2 separate regions of the Homo sapiens genome follow, and region 2 is linked to region 1. The links come from fine-mapping of genetic effects on gene expression. Tissue or cell type: whole blood. Region 1 holds a variant in brackets; the other region holds the start of a gene. All regions are shown on one strand. Distances are between the middles of the regions.

Region 1 (8,168 bases):
AGTATATATTTAGAAATGGGACTTCATCTTACAGAACTGTTTTTTAAAATATTTTTATGCTACCAGAAACTCCTAGAAGCTCATGAAGAACAGAACAGTGAAGCTTACACTGAAGCAGTAAGTTATGCTTTTGGGACATGGTACATTATTTGAAGATTTAAGTTAAAGAAACTTCTTTTCCTTTTCATTATGTGAATTCTAAACATTTATTTGAACATGACTCCAGCATACCTTAAGTTGTATTTTCCAAACGTCACCTTTTATATATCACACAAATTAAACAGTTCCATTAGCCATGCTGAGATTCGACTTACACTCAAAACTAATTTAGCTGTGAGACTAGTTCAGGAGCAAATATTCCATTTATATTCTTATAATTTGCTGTTTTAATTTTTTCTTTTGAAAATAATCTGACCCATAAATAAGTATAAAGTAAAATTAGTTAAGGCCAGGCACGGCGTCTCACACCTGTAATCCTGGCACTTTCGGAGGCCGAGGCAGGCAGATCATGAGTCAGGAAATTGAGACCATCCTCGCCAACATGGTGAAACCCCGTCTCTACTAAAAATATAAAAATTAGCCAGGCATGCTGGCACACGCCTGTAGTCCCAGCTACTCGGGAGGCTGAGGCAGGAGAATCGCTTGAACCCGGGAGGCAGAGGTTGCAGTGAGCTGAGATTGCACCACTGCACTCCAGCCTGGTGACAGAGCGAGACTCTGTCTCAAAAAAAAAAAGAAAAAAAAAATTAAATATAATTTAAAATATAAAAACTAAGTAGTGAGAATTTGCTGTATTTGTGGCATGAAATAAATGGAAGGTGGCCAGGCACGGTGGCTCACACCTATAATCCTAGCACTTTGGGAGGCCAAGGCGGGTGGATCACCTGAGATCAGGAGTTTGAGACCAGCTTGGCCAACATGGCAAAACACCATCTTTACTAAAAATACAAAAATTAGCCAGGCATGGTGGAGTGTGCCTGTAATACCAGCTACTCGGGAGGCTGAGGCAGGAGAATCTCTTGAACCCAGGAGGTGGAGGTTGCAGTGAGCCAAGATCACGCCATTGCATTCCAGCCTGGGCAACAAGAGTGAAACTCCATCTCAAAAATAAATAAATAAATAATAAATATATATATATATTAAAAATATGAGGGTTTTTTTCTTTATACTTTTTGTTTTTCCATCTTTTGCCATCTCATGTTTAGAATCAAGCAAAAAAAAATGTTTTTATATATTTTGAAACAGATCCTCACTCTGTCACTCAGGCTGGAGTGCTGTGGTGTGATCACGGCTCACTGCACCCTCAACCTCCTGGGTTCAGGTGATCCTCCCACCTGAGACTCCTAAGTACCTGGGACTACAGGTGCACACCACCACCCCCAGCTAATTTTTTTTTTTTTTTTTGCATTTTTTGTTGAGACAAGGTTTCACCATGTTGCCCAGGCTGGTCTCTTAACTCCTGGGCTTAAGCTATCCACCTGCCTTGGCCTCCCAGACTTCAAGGATTACAGGCATGAGCCACTACATCCAGCCTCAAGCAAATTTCTCAGTAGCCTCCTGTAACATGTTCATCACAGCTCAGGAGTGATAGAGGAAAGGAATGTTTTCCTGTCTGACTTTTGCCTACCACATCATTTTCATCCTATTGTAATTTTATTTTTGGGTAATGCATTGAAATGTGTTAATTCCGCTTCCATACATATTCTAACTCTGTAATTAATGTTTTCCCATGTTCAGTGAGTATTAATTTTCCATATTCCTTTCAAATTTTTATACAATATCCAGTTACTTTTGCCACAATAATTATGACTGTTAATGAATTTTTTTCTTACACGTTTGAAAACAGAGAAATGTCAAGCCCAGGAACTTGTCACTAGTATCAAAATAGTAACAGGATAATGAAAAAATAAACAATTTTTTAATGAAGAAAGTTATAAACTGGAATGATTAATTTCAAATGATGAAGAAAGTTAGTAGATTATGGCTGTAAAGGTATAAACAGCTTGGGGTACTATTATTTTGTGTTTTTAATGTATTTACATGGGGTAATTCCTGTTCCTCTTTCCTTATACTAGGTGAAGGAATTTGACTCAATATCTCGCTTGGATCAGTGGCTGACCACCATGTTGCTTCGCATCAAAAAGTCCATCCAAGGGGATGGAGAAGGAGATGGAGACCTAAAATGAAATGTTTTTGTCTTTGTGGCATGCAGCTAACTCCTCTTTAGTTTTGTCTTAGGGTCAAGTGATCTTTATGGGATGCCTATTTAATGGCTTAATTTTGTTGCATATGAGCCAGACGGCCTGTGTATTGTTTAAGCTCGCCAAGTCTGTGTTGCTGTGAAATGAATGAAGGAGAGGCTCCTGTTCATCTTGTGGTAATGATGGGTTGTTTCATGCTTATCAGAACCCCCAGCGTTTTCTGAGAAGTACTTCAGAATCTCATTCCTCATATTTCATTGGTATTTGTGGAGCCTATGTTTAATGTTGCCACGTGTTTTTATGTCCTTTTTGTTGGACTTGAGTACTCAGCCCAGTTGTTCTCATAGATGCTTTGCATTTTCTCTGTGCTTTGGCATCTGAATATGTTCTTTAAATGTGTGTTTAGTTTAGGACAGTTACTAGGAATGAGTTTATAACTTCATTAGAAATCATTTCTATTTTTGTTATCCTGTGATTATTTTGATGGTGCTAGTGACTAGTTTCTTTGCTTTTTGTGTTGTTCCGTATGCTAACATGTGCATGGCAAAAATTTAGAATAGCCAGGGTCTGTAGGCATCACATTGTGAGGAAGGGAGCTTTCTGGAAGTACTTGCTTCATGTATGGATGAGTGTCAAAGTGAATTTGATTTGTACTTAGACACACGCGTTTACACACACACACATATCACAAGATCTGTTAGAAATGGAATTTTTCTCTTTTTCTGGAGATAGTTTTCACTTTTAGTTGGAGTGGAAATCCCTTTATATTTACATTGAAGTATTTTAATTGGCATAGCCTGCTCATTATTTTCATGTTTATACACTTTCCCACGTTGAGGTGGTGTGTTCTGTGCTGTGACTATAGAAATCTTGGTCAGGGCTGGATAGATTATCTAAGTCAAGCTTGAGAATGAATGTATGTAATTTTCCTGTTTATTGTACATGATGGGTTAGGTGGGGTGAATGTGGTACAGGAATGTCCTGTATGCCCAAGTGGGCAAGAACCCCAACTTGTTTCTCAGGGGACTTGATTGTTCTCTTAGCTGGTGGAATATGTTGGCTTATGTGTTTGAACTCTGTCGTGTTTAATTGGTTTATATAATATATGTATGCTATCTTGATTCATGAACTTGATCCTATTAATTTATATGCTGATATTGTACTTTAGACATACGCTTGTCTCCTGAATGTCCTCTGAATATTTATAGTTAAATGATTTATATTTGAAATGTGTTGCCAGACTTAACCCAGCAGACACTCTGACATCACGGAGCTTCACTGATGACAGGTAACGAAACTTCCTATGTTATGTCAGGTAGTAGTAAGTAGTATTGGAATGATGTTTTCATTTTTGGTGGCTCTCAACTGGAATTGGTAGTGTTTCCAGGCCAAGGGTCGACTGCAGGTTGTTTGAGAAATGATGAGTAGGTCAGTCTAGGAAGAAAGAGAAAGTAGCAGGAAAGGAAGTGGGAAGGGCCAGCCAAGGACAGACTGTAGAGGATCCACATCAGGTGGCCACGAGGACTTGCAGGCTATAGTTATGGTGGTGACATGCATGAGGTGGGCTGGTAGAGCAGGAAGCTCTGTGATGTCAGAGCATCTACTGGGACTACAGGTGCACTGTAGTCCCCACTACTGGGGGTGGCAATGAAGACACTCTGTCTGTTGGGCCCTAGAATTTAATGTGGATTTCCTCCTTCCTTCCAAGTTCTGAGATTCTTAAATGAGAGCTGGCTGTCTTCTAGAGGTAAGACCTGGAATGGAGTCCAGTTGGTACTTTTTCACTCCCTCTTAGAATCTCTTATGAAAAAATGATCAGAGAGAAAAGTGGGGTTTTGTTTCCCCACCTAATAATATATCCTACAACCAGCCAAATGCACTTTTGTGAAAATGGGGTGTGAGGAGTGGTTCTGCAGCTTGAGTCCTCTGGTTTTAAGTAGTTTGTTTCTACTTGTTTAAAGAATCTTCTGGTCTGACCACTTAAAGTAAAAACTACATGATTTATTTTCGGGCAATTATGTTTAGCTTTCATCATTATACTCCAACAGACCCGTCTGAAGGGGTATTTTTTTTTAACAATAATGTTTGTAACATTTTGTTGTGTCAATTAGAGGGTCACTTGTTTGTATTGCAATAAACACTGGGACCAGTTCCGGGGTTAAGAATTAATTTTTGTTTTTAATATTTCACATGAAAAGAATCAAAGTAATTGTAATGGCTAGAAGAGACCTGCCAGAAGATTAAAAAAAAGAATGAGAGAAAAGCCCAGTTAGTGGTGTGCAAACTTACTTCCTTTAAATGTCCCATGGATGTAGGACAGTGCCATGTTTCAAGATGCCTGTGAGCTAGGTCTTCAAGATTTATAGAATGTTACTTATGAACAAAATATAATTATTTATGGTACAATTCTTGTACTTTAGCAAATCTGGAGTTAGTTCATAGTCAAAGTCAGTTAATATTTCTTAGAGGAAAGTTTTGCTTTTTGTGGCAACATTTTTATAGCTTGTGTGAGTTCTTTTTTATTTAATGATTTGAAAGCAGTATTTTTGCACAGTCGTGACCGTGTGTGGTGGC[G/A]TCACTGTAACCAAAGTATATGCACCAGCCCTTGTGCATTTATTGTTTCTCCTGATTTTGTGGATTTAAATGTCCAAATGCAAACCTTTGTGACTTCCTTTGGAGGACTTGGCAGCACAGCATGCCCCCGTGACCTGCCTGCTGTGGTATGAGCTATGACCAAGAGCAGGCTTCCTGCTCCATGGAGTCCTGAGTTGCTCTGGGGCAGGGGATTACGTTATGAAAACTAACCATGTGTAACAATAAATCTACCTTAGCAGAAAAAGTATGCTTGTTTTATTTTAACCTATAAAGTGGAAATTATCAGTAATATTTTGATGAGTCTTGTTGCTAAATTGGCATAGGTCAAAAGTAGCTTCCATTGTTTCAAGTTGTTCCCGTTAAGATTAAGGCAACAGACGTTAATACTCTCTAGGCTCCGGTCATTTGTTGGGAATTCCAGGGCACCGTAATGGTTTTGCAGACTGAGGGTTTAGAAGGAAACCCTGGTAACTTCTGTTGATGCAGTCCACTAAAGTACATGATAACCCTGCAGACCCCACATTCTCATCCCTTCCTTGAATCCTTTAGGGTCTACAGTTACTTGCAAAGTTGAGGAAGGCATGGTTGCTGGAAGACTGGTGGGGAGGTGAGGCACCCCTAAGCCTGACACTCTCCTACCCCAAGAAAGTACCACTCAACTATCTGGTCAGTGTGGGCATTTATTTTAATTTTGCAAAATATCTGCACAGGGAGAGGAGATGCCCCTGGGGAAGGGTCAGTCCCACTGACCACTGGGGCCTGAAGTTCTGATGAGGAAGAGGACCCATGGCGGGTAGTGCAGACCGGCTCATCCTACCATCCTATCATAGAGCCTTGATTTCAGGTCCTAAAGTATATTCACAACACTTCAGGTAAGTCAAAGCAAAATGTTTTAAATGGTAGAACAAGCTGTCCTCATCTAGGCATTCTGAGTTGTTGATCATTCAAAGCCTAAATCAAGTGGCTCTTCTCAGAATCAATTTCCTAATGAAGATGCCACCATGGTAGTTTAAAAGCTTAGTTTTGTCAGCCTTAGTTAAGAGTCCACGTACGGATTGCCAAAGGTATGCAGATGATTTTCTGAGTCTCATTTAGCATGATGTGATAGATCAGGGGTCCCCAACCCGTTAGAAACTGGGCCTTACGGCAGGAGGTGAGCTGCAGGCAGTGAAGCTTCATCTGTATTTGCAGTCACTCCCCGTGGCTCACATTACCACCTGAGCTGTGCACCCTGTCAGATCAGCAGTGTCATTAGAGTCTCATAGGAGTGCAAACCCTATTGAACTGCGCGTGCACGGGATCTAGGTTGTACGCTTTTTATGAGAATCTAATGCCTAATGATCTGTTGCTGTCTTCCATCACCCCCAGATGGGACTGTCAAGTTGCAGGAAAACAAGCTCAGGGCTCCCACTATACATTATGGTGCATTGTATAATTACTTCATTGTATATTACAATGCAATAATAATAGAAAGTGCACAATAAATGCAATGCGCTTGAATCATCCTGAAACCATTCTGTCCCCCCACCTGTGGGAAAATTGTCTTCCACAAAAGTGGTCCCTGGTGCCAAAAAGGTTGGGGACTGCTGTGCTAGATGATCCTCTGACCTGTGTGCCTTTCTCAGTCACATCAAATGAAATATTGTTACTCCTGAGTACATGAATATCATGACATTTGGTTAAATTGACAAGTACCCATCTTGTTTCCCAAAAATGAACTCCTTGGAGGGACAAGGTTTATTTAACAGGTTAAAAATTAAATTATACACTCAAATTTACTTGTTTGGATAATCACCTACAGCAAAATCACATTTCTGTAAAAATCACCTTAAATAAAGGTCTCCACCACATGGCCCATTTTTTCCAAACGACAGCAAAGAATTTGGTAAAACGAAAGGCTGCACATCCCTTTGGAGTTTGGGCTGACAGCATTTCACAGAAAATGGTTGGAAAATGGTTGAAGCAAGCTCCTAAATGGCCCTTCTTGAGGCTCTGGGAGAGGCACTGTGCCGGCACCTGGCCACTTTCCTCATTACACACTTGGGACCAATCCACTCAGATGGTGGCCTCGCTTCCACTCAGCATGGCTGTGCTTGGACTTGGAGGAATGGGGCAGATGCTCCAGGAGGTCCTCTGTAACCAGTCCCCTACAGGGTTACGTTTCTCTGTTCTCAGGGACAGAGAAATGTATATAGTAGAAGTCGTATCTTTGATGCCTACTTTTTACATTGAAGAAAGTGGCAGAGAGCTCAACCGCACTTCCAGCCCGGTTGTGGCCTGCGCATGAGCAGAGGCCAGGATTTCTCCTCTCCAGGATCCCACTGCCAGAGACCAACTGGGATCCAAGCAGTTAAACAGCTTAATCCTAGGACTGTATGAAATAAAGGCTTATGGACCCGGATTTTACATTTCATTATTCACGTAATTAAGCAAATTATATGTTTCAATTAAGAATCATATTTCTGCAGAACCTAAATTATAACAGAAATAGATCTTTAAAAAATTGCAAAACTGCTTTTACAAAGCAGACATTTATTAACAACATTTTTTTGTAGAATTTCTAAGGAAACAAATTCAAGACAAAAATCCCTCCAGTAGGTAACAAAATGATCTATTGTTTCAATTCCTTCTGATCAAGTGACTTTATTCCATAAAACAGTACATCAGCTGGGCAGGTTCGGTCTCCTCTGGATGTATGACAGTCATTATTTATTTGTGCTGTAAACATAACTAGGATACAGTGACACTGTCATAACTAAATTTGAAGTAAATTAGTACTGTGACCTCCAAGGGCAGGTGTGAAGCATGTTATCAGCGCCTGAAACACCTTGTAGTGGTTTCACTAACATAAGTTAAAACATAAGCACTTAGGAAGAAAGTCTTCCCTCATTAATTTCTGGCATAGTGCAGCTACATGTTCATTCTGGAACTTAAAGTACCTTCCTCTTAGAAAATCAAAGTGTTTTCACAGCAAGTTTAATAAATTAAAAATGTAGAGAAAAAAGGAACTAGTGAACAAAAGAATTCTCCAAGGTTCCCTTTTTAAATTAATGTTTAAATGTTACATGTGAATCATAGCATTTCACAAGCACGTGGCACATACTCAAGGCCCTAGAACCAAATGTCAACGTTTAACAAATACAGCAGAATCGTCTTTTCATTGTGAATTTTTAAAAGCAATAATTAAGTCCTGCATGAAACAGCCAAAGAAGCATTTGGGACAAAGTTACTGGTTCTTCACAATCAACTCTTTAAGGCATAATCGGAGGTAAGTGTGCTGAGACTTTTGGTCCCTACTGCTATGTTCTCACATGCTCCCAAGGAAATAGACATGTCAGTTACTTGCCTGTTTCCATCTCTAGGTGTGGAAAT
Region 2 (8,168 bases), 46 kb before region 1:
GTAGGGGCTCCAGCTTCCCAACTTTGTCAATGCAACCAGAGTGGACCAGGGTGAGCACGGACTCCCTCTAACCTAGCTGTCGTGGTGTGAAAACATCTGCAAATCCTCAGAGGCCCTCCCATCAGGAGATGTCGTCTCATTTCCCTCCCCTTTAATGTGGGTGAGCCTTCTTGCTTTGCTTCAGTGAAGCAGCAGTGATGTCCCATAATTTTCCATACTGGATCTTTGCCTGGTGCTTTCTCCCCTTCTGTGAACACACACAGATGGCTACACCCTTTCCCCATATCGATTCTGTTCTTTTCTGACTCTGGCTTTCTTAGTATTGGGGTTCTCAAGTAGCTTCAGCCCTGTCTTGATGGATCATCTTTCGGGGTATGTGCTGATTCAGTCTGAGTGTCCAGGTGTCCACCTCCATCTTCTCACAGGGAAAAGCCAGCAGTACTGTTGGCTCTGCCTTGTTCAGGCTACGCTCCTTTCCTGCTCTGCCTTCTCAGAAACTCCCTGAAGCCTTTTTCTTCTTTTCTTACAAGTGTCCAGAACTTCTGAAAAGCAAAGCACATAGAGGCTAGTGCCATCCACTAGGACTTGTGGAATGATAAAATTGTTCTCTGTCTGTGCAGTCCATATAGTAGTGTAGGGGGGCATCTCAGGCTCCTGGTGGAGTCTGAAAATTAAACTTACATAAGACAAGTTAATAGCAGGAAAGCACACAGGTGTATTTGATACAAGTTTTACATGGCATGGGAGGCCTCATAAGGAAATGAAAACCCAAAGAGGCAGTTAGAGTGTGTTACTTATTTACTGAATTGGACAAAGAATAGTAAACTGAAAATGTGATGAGGCAGAGGGGCTTGGGCTAGGGTAGTTAATTGGATAGAAAAGTGACTAAGAAGATAAGGGTTAGTTTAATAGGGTTTGTACAGAATTCTCTTAGCCTCAACTTCCTGTCTTTGATGATAAGAATGTTGCTTTAGTTCTAGTATAAGAGGGACATCTTTCATATGGGAATTTCATCTCTTGCCTTTAAATAAACAAGAGGTTGGGGCCAGGCGCGGTGGCTCACGCCTGTAATCCCAGCACTTTGGGAGGCCGAGGCTGGTGGATCACGAGGTCAGGAGATCGAGACCATGCTGGCTAACACAGTGAAACCCCGTCTCTACTAAAAATCCAAAAAATTAGCCGGGTGTGGTGGTGGGTGCCTGTAGTCCCAGCTACTTGGGAGGCTGAGGCAGGAGAATGGCGTGAACCTGGGAGGCGGAACTTGCAGTGAGCCACTGCACTCTGGCCTGGGCAACAGAGTGAAACTCTGTCTCAAAAAAAAAAAAAAAAGAAAGAAAGAAACAAGAGGTCAAAGTGTCCAGTGTGTATTCTGTATGCAAAAAAGAAAAGAAAAAGTCAAAATAATCTTCTTGCACCTGTCGTTTTTTGGGTGTCTAACTTTTTTTTTTTTTTTTGAGCAGAGTCTCACTCACTCTGTCGCCCAGGCTGGAGTGTAATGGTGCAATCTCGGCTCACTGCAACCTCTGTTCCACCTCTCAGGTTCAAGTGATTCTCCTGCCTCAGCCTCCTGAGTAGCTGGGATTACAGGCATGCACCACGACACCTAACTAATTTTTGTATTTTTTGTAAATTTTGTATTTTTGGTAGAGATGGGGTTTTACTGTGTTGGCCAGGTTGGTCTTGAACTACTCACCTCAAGTGATCCGCTTGCCTTGGCCTCCCAAAGTGCTGGGATTACAGGCGTGAGCCACCGCCCTCAAGTATCTAACTTAGTCAATCCACCAGGTGTCTAACTTAGTCAATCCACCAGGATGCTATATTTATAACTCTTTCAGTAGCCACTGGCTATGTGTGGCTATTGAGCACTTGAAATACGGCTAGTACAGCCAAGAAATGGAACTTTACATTTTATTTAATATTATTTAACTTGAATGTAAATAGCCACCAGTGGTGAGTGGCTCCATCCTGGGCAGCGCAGGTGTGGGCAGTGGGTCCTTTGGCTCTTCTCCAAGATGACTTCTATTCTTCTCCTGATCCACACCAGGGGTGCTTCTCCTTTCCTTTTCCTTCTTGTTTCAAGGATTCCTCAGCTGTCTCTCTAGTCAGGCCTTATTCTGTGAGGTTCATCTCTCTGCCCTGCCTCCTTTCCTCCCCCAGCCTTTGGGAGAATAAAACACTAGCTCTACCCAGTAATTAAGGTTTGAAGGTTTTCTCCCACTTTGGTGTGGACTGGCAGAACGGTGGGAGTGCCCACAAATTTCCTGTGACAAAGAAGAGAATGAAGGAAATTACTAGAAACCACCAAAAATGTCTCTCTTAATTGCAAGTGCTAGCTTCGGGGAGGCAGTCTGTTCCAGCTCCTTTTCAACTGACTACAGATATGAGAATCTAGAACTGTGTGCTTTAGGATAGGGATGGAGAGTTCTTTTCAAAATGTGCATTTTCTAGACCCCAGCTGCAAGAGACCTTGATACCAAAACCCAGTGGCCTAGGAATCAGTATTTCTTAAATATCCATTAGAGCTTCTGCATCGAACCACGTTAGGGAACAACTGATTTAATCAACACACTGATTTACTTAGGAGCTTTTGACTTAGCCTCACTCCATTAAGCCCCCATAGACTGCTCTGCTTTCCAAATGCTTATGTTCACTTTTTACAGTTTTTCTCTGGTCTCCCCTGCATTTACGGTCACCTCCAATTTCCCGCCTCCTTCTCTCTCCAAAAACACACAGCTCAGCTTTTCAAAGTTAGAATAATGCATGTAGTAATCGTAAATAAACTGCACGAAGAGCTGAGATTTCTTTCTATCTCTACGGAGTCCTGAAATGTATGAACTCTGTGACATGTGCTTTAGTCAACTTTCTTTCTAGGAGTTTGGCCCCTCTTGCCTTGCCCTCTACAGACAGTCTTCATTTTCTAAAATTTTGCATGCCAGTGCCCAGAGTGTATTTATTAACAGTTTGAAACTGTCATAAATCTCACTTGGCAGTGATTTTCTTATTAGTTTCAGCATCTCTGCCTTAGCACTGCCAAGCTTGAATGGTCTAGACATTGTCTTCAAAAATAACTCCCTCTGGGACAGGCCTGAAAGTCTCTGGCACAGGATCCCATCTATCTATGGATACTTCTCCTAGGAGATTAGAAGTCTTCCTGGCAGGCAAACATTTTGTCCCTGGAGATCCATCCACTATGGCCAGTATTATGTAAAGGATAAGAGTTCAATGGTTCACATCCATTGAATATAATTCAGTCAACAAAAGAGTGGATTATGCATATATTGCATATATGCAACTCATTTATAACCAAGGAAGAGAGGACCAACAGAAAGTTACAGTTTGGGGAGATTTAAAAATAACTGAACTTATATTGGGGACGTCTTGCTCTTGGAGATAAAAATGGCTCTTATTGCCAGCTGTTGCTCGTTTTTTGGTGGGCGGTATCAAGCATGTGATGCTTTGGTGGCTACACCAGATTCTCTTTTGCAGAACTTGCATGAAGGGTGTGGGTTCCATCCAATCTGTTATCCCCTGTTCCTTCATCCATCCCATTGCCATGCGAGTCTTACTGAGGAGGTGATCTTTACTAGAGGCCACGGATCATTTTTCCATTTCTGCATACATACAAAATTAAAGTTCACCTTGGCCCAGGACCCCTTTGGGGGGGTCACGCCCCCTGCGCCGACGTCCTGGGAGCTAGCGGTGCGCAAGCTCGGCTCACACACACCCCGCCCCGGGGCCTCCTGGGAACTGTAGTAGGCGGCTCGCGAATCCCCGCCGCCATGACAGGACCCGGACTACAGCTCCCGAAAGGCCTCGCGCGTCGCGCCTGCGCCTGCGTCCCTGCGGCCGCCAGAGGGAGGGTTAAGGCGCCTGGGCGCACAGCGAGCCGGCTGAGGGGGCTGTGGCGGCCGCGGCGGGCGACATGGACAACGCGGGGAAGGAGCGTGAGGCAGTACAGCTGATGGCGGAGGCCGAGAAGCGAGTCAAGGCCTCCCACTCCTTCCTCCGAGGGCTGTTTGGGTGAGCGCCAGACCGTGCGTGCCCTGGGGGGGGGGGGTCTCCGTACTTGGCCCCCTTCCTTTCAGGCTGACCCCCCGAGTCCCCCACGCAACCTCTGGGGCCCTCAGACCACGTCTAGGGGCCCTCAGCCTGCAGGCGCCCTCCAGAAATCCTGTAGGGTCCCCCAGCGCCCCCTGGAGCCCCCAGGACGCCCAGGGGCCCTCAGTCCGCACGCGCCCTCCAGAGACCCCACAGGCCCCCCCAGGGTCCCTGGAAACCCCGCATCCTCCCAGGGGCTCTCAGCCCCCACGCGCACTTTAGAGACCCCCTAGGGCCGGCAGAACTCCCCAGGGTTCCTCAGCCCCCACACGCTCTCCGGATCCCCTAACACGCCCCCTTAGAATCCCCAGAGTCTCACAGGGACCCTCAGCCCCCACGCGCCTTTCAGAGAACCCCTAGGACCCCCAGAGCTCCCCAAGCGCCCCACGAAGCCCCTAGAACACTCTGGGGGGGGGGCTGTCAGCCTCACGCGCCCTCTGGAGACCCCAGATCGCCCCCCTCGCCCTGGCCCGGGTTGGTGCGGGGGTCCCACGACCTAGAAGGTCAGCGGCTCCCTGAGGCCCGCGGGCGCGGTAGCTCGGGGCGCGCGTGGGGCCCCCTTCTCAGTGCGTAGCGAGTCGTATTGGTGCATTTCGCCACGCTGAAGCCCGTATCGCTCCTGAGACCGGTCCGGGTGAGGCGCGCCGGGGTGGAGCCGGAGGGGTGGGTGCGGGGGCCGCCCCCGGCGCCTGGAACGCGCACCTGGGGGCGTCCCGCCTGCAGGTGGGCCCCGCCGGGGAGGGGGCGGTCCGGCGAGGGATCCAGAGCTGGTGTGCTTGTTGGCCTCTCTCCAGGGGCCTTGCGCCGAGTACACCTTTAGTAAATACTTGACTAATGAACGAATATATTTTCTCAGCATAGTATTTTTCCTTCTCCGGAGATTGATTGATAGCCAGAGCCTCCTGTTTGATTAACGGTAACGCTGCTGCTGTTTAAGTCAGGCGTCCTTTGGGAATCCCTTTAATTTCCTGTAATTCTTCCGTGCTCTCCTAAGGAGGATTTTAAATTCCAACCTCTCAAAAAGCAGAGCCCGCACTGACAGCCCGGAAGAATTCTGGGCTGTTGAATATGTGAATGATTCAGCTGTTTAGGATGAGAAAGGCAGAAATTTTGTGTGTGCCTGTTTCGTTGTTTTCTTTTGAAAGTGAAAGATCCTTTGCTGTTACCAAGAGCAGATACTTAACCCATTGCATGACTAGACACGATTTTATTTCTGTACACATTCAGTTCAGACTCTATTTCAGAAGACAGACATAATGGGCTCTTAGCTTGTTTTGCCAACTTCATTCTTTTGGCTATAAATTATAATACTTTACCGCTATTGATACGTCTTTAGGAAATGCTTAAGGACAAGTTGCATGCAGTACGCATAACTGCAGAAATGCATAAAGGCTGCAAAAATGCAAGAAGATAAGGGTCCCTGTCCTCAGGAACCTCTCAGAGGACGTTTATCACAGCTGGTTTCTAAATTTCTCATGTGATGTGTAGGAGATATAGCTATGAATTATGTTTTGTTTTGCATTTAAAAGTTATGACAGTACCATCAAGTGCTAGCGCCACACTAACTCCTTTTAAATGTTTTGATTCACAAAACATTTAAAATTCACTCTAATAAAATTTAATGTCATAGTACCTCATGCCAGGAGGTTATTTTAATGTTACAACATTATTTCAAGTCAGGAAGTGCTTCCCTGTGGGAGAGTCTGTAACTGGCAGAGGAAAAAGCTTGACAGCACTTGGTGCTTGTCTCAGGAGAACACTCCTTTTGGGAAAGAGGTTTTCGATGTTTTTAGGAAACTAGGCCAAATCTTGAGCTTATAATCCTTAAAGGATTTTGAAAAGCCTTTGTTTTTAAAGAAACATCTCCCTTTTAAATGTTGCTACCTATGTTATTGACAGGACATATAAGAAGACGAATCTTCACCATTCACACTCAGTTACACAAAAGTTAATGCATCTTAGTTCTTACCTGGGTACAACAGGTTGGTTTATTATCTAGCTTTGGGACCTAGGGCAAGTTACTTAGCCTCTCTGTGCTTCAGTTTCCAGTGTATAAAACGGAGACAATAATAGTATATCTCAAAATTTATGGGAGTTCAGTGAGGTTATGTTTATAAAACATTTGGAACCATGGATGTTGGAGACAGTGACCATGAGATATTAATTAGCATATTCATCAAAATTATCAGCTCCAGTTATTTATCAAAGAAGCAGTAGGCCAAACAGATAACTTTTCCAGAATTTCAGAGCCGTAGACTGCATCATTGATTTTTTTTTTTTGAGACGGAGTCTCACACTGTCACCCGGGCTGGATTGCAGTGGCGGGATGTCAACTAACTGCAACCTCCGCCTCCCAGGTTCAAGCGATTCTCCTGCCTCAGTCTCCTGAGTAGCTGGGATTACAGCCACCCGCCACCACGCCCGGCTAATTTTTTTTTTTTTTTTGTATTTTTAGTAGAGACGGGGTTTCACTGTGTTGGCCAGGCTGGTCTCGAATGCCTGACCTCGTGATCCACCTGCCTTGGCCTCCCAAAGTGCTGGGATTACAGACGTGAGCCAGCACGCCCAGCCTCATTGATCTTTTAATGAAATAAAATATCTGAAAGAGCTTTAACCATTAATGTACCATGCAAGTGTGATTTATACTTTGAAGACTGTTATTTCCAGTAATACTTGCTCCAGGAAAGCTTGCAGGAAGAAGAGTACTTAGAATTTTAGGAGTTTAGTAATATTGTATAATTACTGAAGCCAGAAAACAGACGTAGTGTTCCTGTGTCAGTAGGACAATTAAGATTCTGTATCAATTTTAGATGTTTAGAATCCTACCTTATAGATGGCATGTATCATCACCTTTCTAGACTGGAATACATGTTATTCCACCCTGCCCCTGCCTTCTTAGCTATAGAATGTCACCATTTTCATTCCTAAAGGTCTGCATGTAATCCTTTATTTAAAACGCAGAGTAATCCATCTCTATGTCAGACTCCAGAATTAATGTAATACAAAATTAATAAAACACACATACTGACTTGAATATCATCAGAGCTCATATATTTAAGAGCTGACTAGCTGGTGCTTTAAAGAGGATAAGCCATCTGTTTTCAGGTTGTGGCAGTCATTAAAAGCTGCTTGGCATATTGCAGATATTTCACATCACAGACATTCTGAATGCTCTATCTGCAGATTAAAGCCTGTCATGAGTTCTCTAGTGTTTACCACTCACAGTGGTTTTGTGGCAATACTGTATTCTTAGTAGTATTCTATAGCTTTTGTTTCTTGCTTTCAGTAAAATTAGATGAAAATATGCATATGTATTTATGAGAACATGTCAGTCAAATATTTCTTCTCTGTGTAAGGCACAAATCCTCTGCCTTATCTGCTTGATAGGTAAGGTATCAATATTCCTTTCCCATCCCCACCTTCCTCCCCAGGAAAAGAGCTGACAAGGGATGCAAACATTGCAGGAAACCACTGTTGTGGTGGTTTGTGTTTCTGCTTAATTGCCCGTTAAGCAGTAATGTGCTTTTGTAGTTGTGGAATTAAAACTTTTTCTCAAGTTTGTAGTATAGTACGTTTAGTAAAACTACTTCCAAAGGAGTTGTCTTGTCCTTTAGTTTGTTGCCAGGGATGAGCTATGGAATTTTGTAGTTAATTTCAAATTCCAGTTTATAATGTTAATGAACTACTGGTATGATTTTAAATCGGCCTGAGTCTGACATTAAGATAGTTTTGAATTGGAAAAGCCTCTTATAATACTATCCCCTCCATCTTGTTGCTATGAGACCCGGTTGGGAATAACCTGCACAATGCACATAGAAGAAAGTGCTTAAGACTGACAGTGGAGGCCAGGTGCAGTGGCTCACGCCTGTAATCCCAGCACTCTGGGAGGCCGAGGCGGGTGGATCACTTGAGGTCAGGAGTTTGAGACCAGCCTAGCCAACATGATGAAACCCCGTCTCTACTAAAAATACAAAAATTAGCCTGGCGTGGTGGCGGGCGCCTGTAATACCAGCTACTTGGTAGGCTGAGGCAGGAGAATCACTTGAACCTTGGAGGTGGAGGTTGTAGTG

The links. PIP is the estimated chance that this variant, and not a neighbour inherited with it, causes the effect.
Region 2: NAPB starts here. The variant in region 1 is fine-mapped to the expression of NAPB in whole blood (TOPMed, PIP above 0.99). The same link has a PIP of 0.9 or more in B cells, monocytes, monocytes after LPS, monocytes after triphosphate RNA and prefrontal cortex.

The regions. Positions count from the first base shown.
Region 1 is chr20:23,371,394-23,379,561 of GRCh38, reverse strand. It overlaps GZF1 (GDNF inducible zinc finger protein 1), which reads right to left. Exons shown (of 6, transcript NM_022482.5): 6 at 6,500-8,168. It overlaps NAPB (NSF attachment protein beta), which reads left to right. Exons shown (of 11, transcript NM_022080.3): 10 at 67-117; 11 at 2,076-5,040. The coding sequence ends at 2,186. Among named protein-coding and RNA genes, the nearest start is that of GZF1, 13 kb to the right of the region's middle. The variant G/A (reference allele first, on the strand shown) is at 4,776.
Region 2 is chr20:23,417,157-23,425,324 of GRCh38, reverse strand. It overlaps NAPB (NSF attachment protein beta), which reads left to right and starts at 3,837. Exons shown (of 11, transcript NM_022080.3): 1 at 3,837-4,020. The coding sequence starts at 3,923. RefSeq lists an enhancer at 3,459-3,648 and silencers at 3,899-3,988, 4,619-4,848.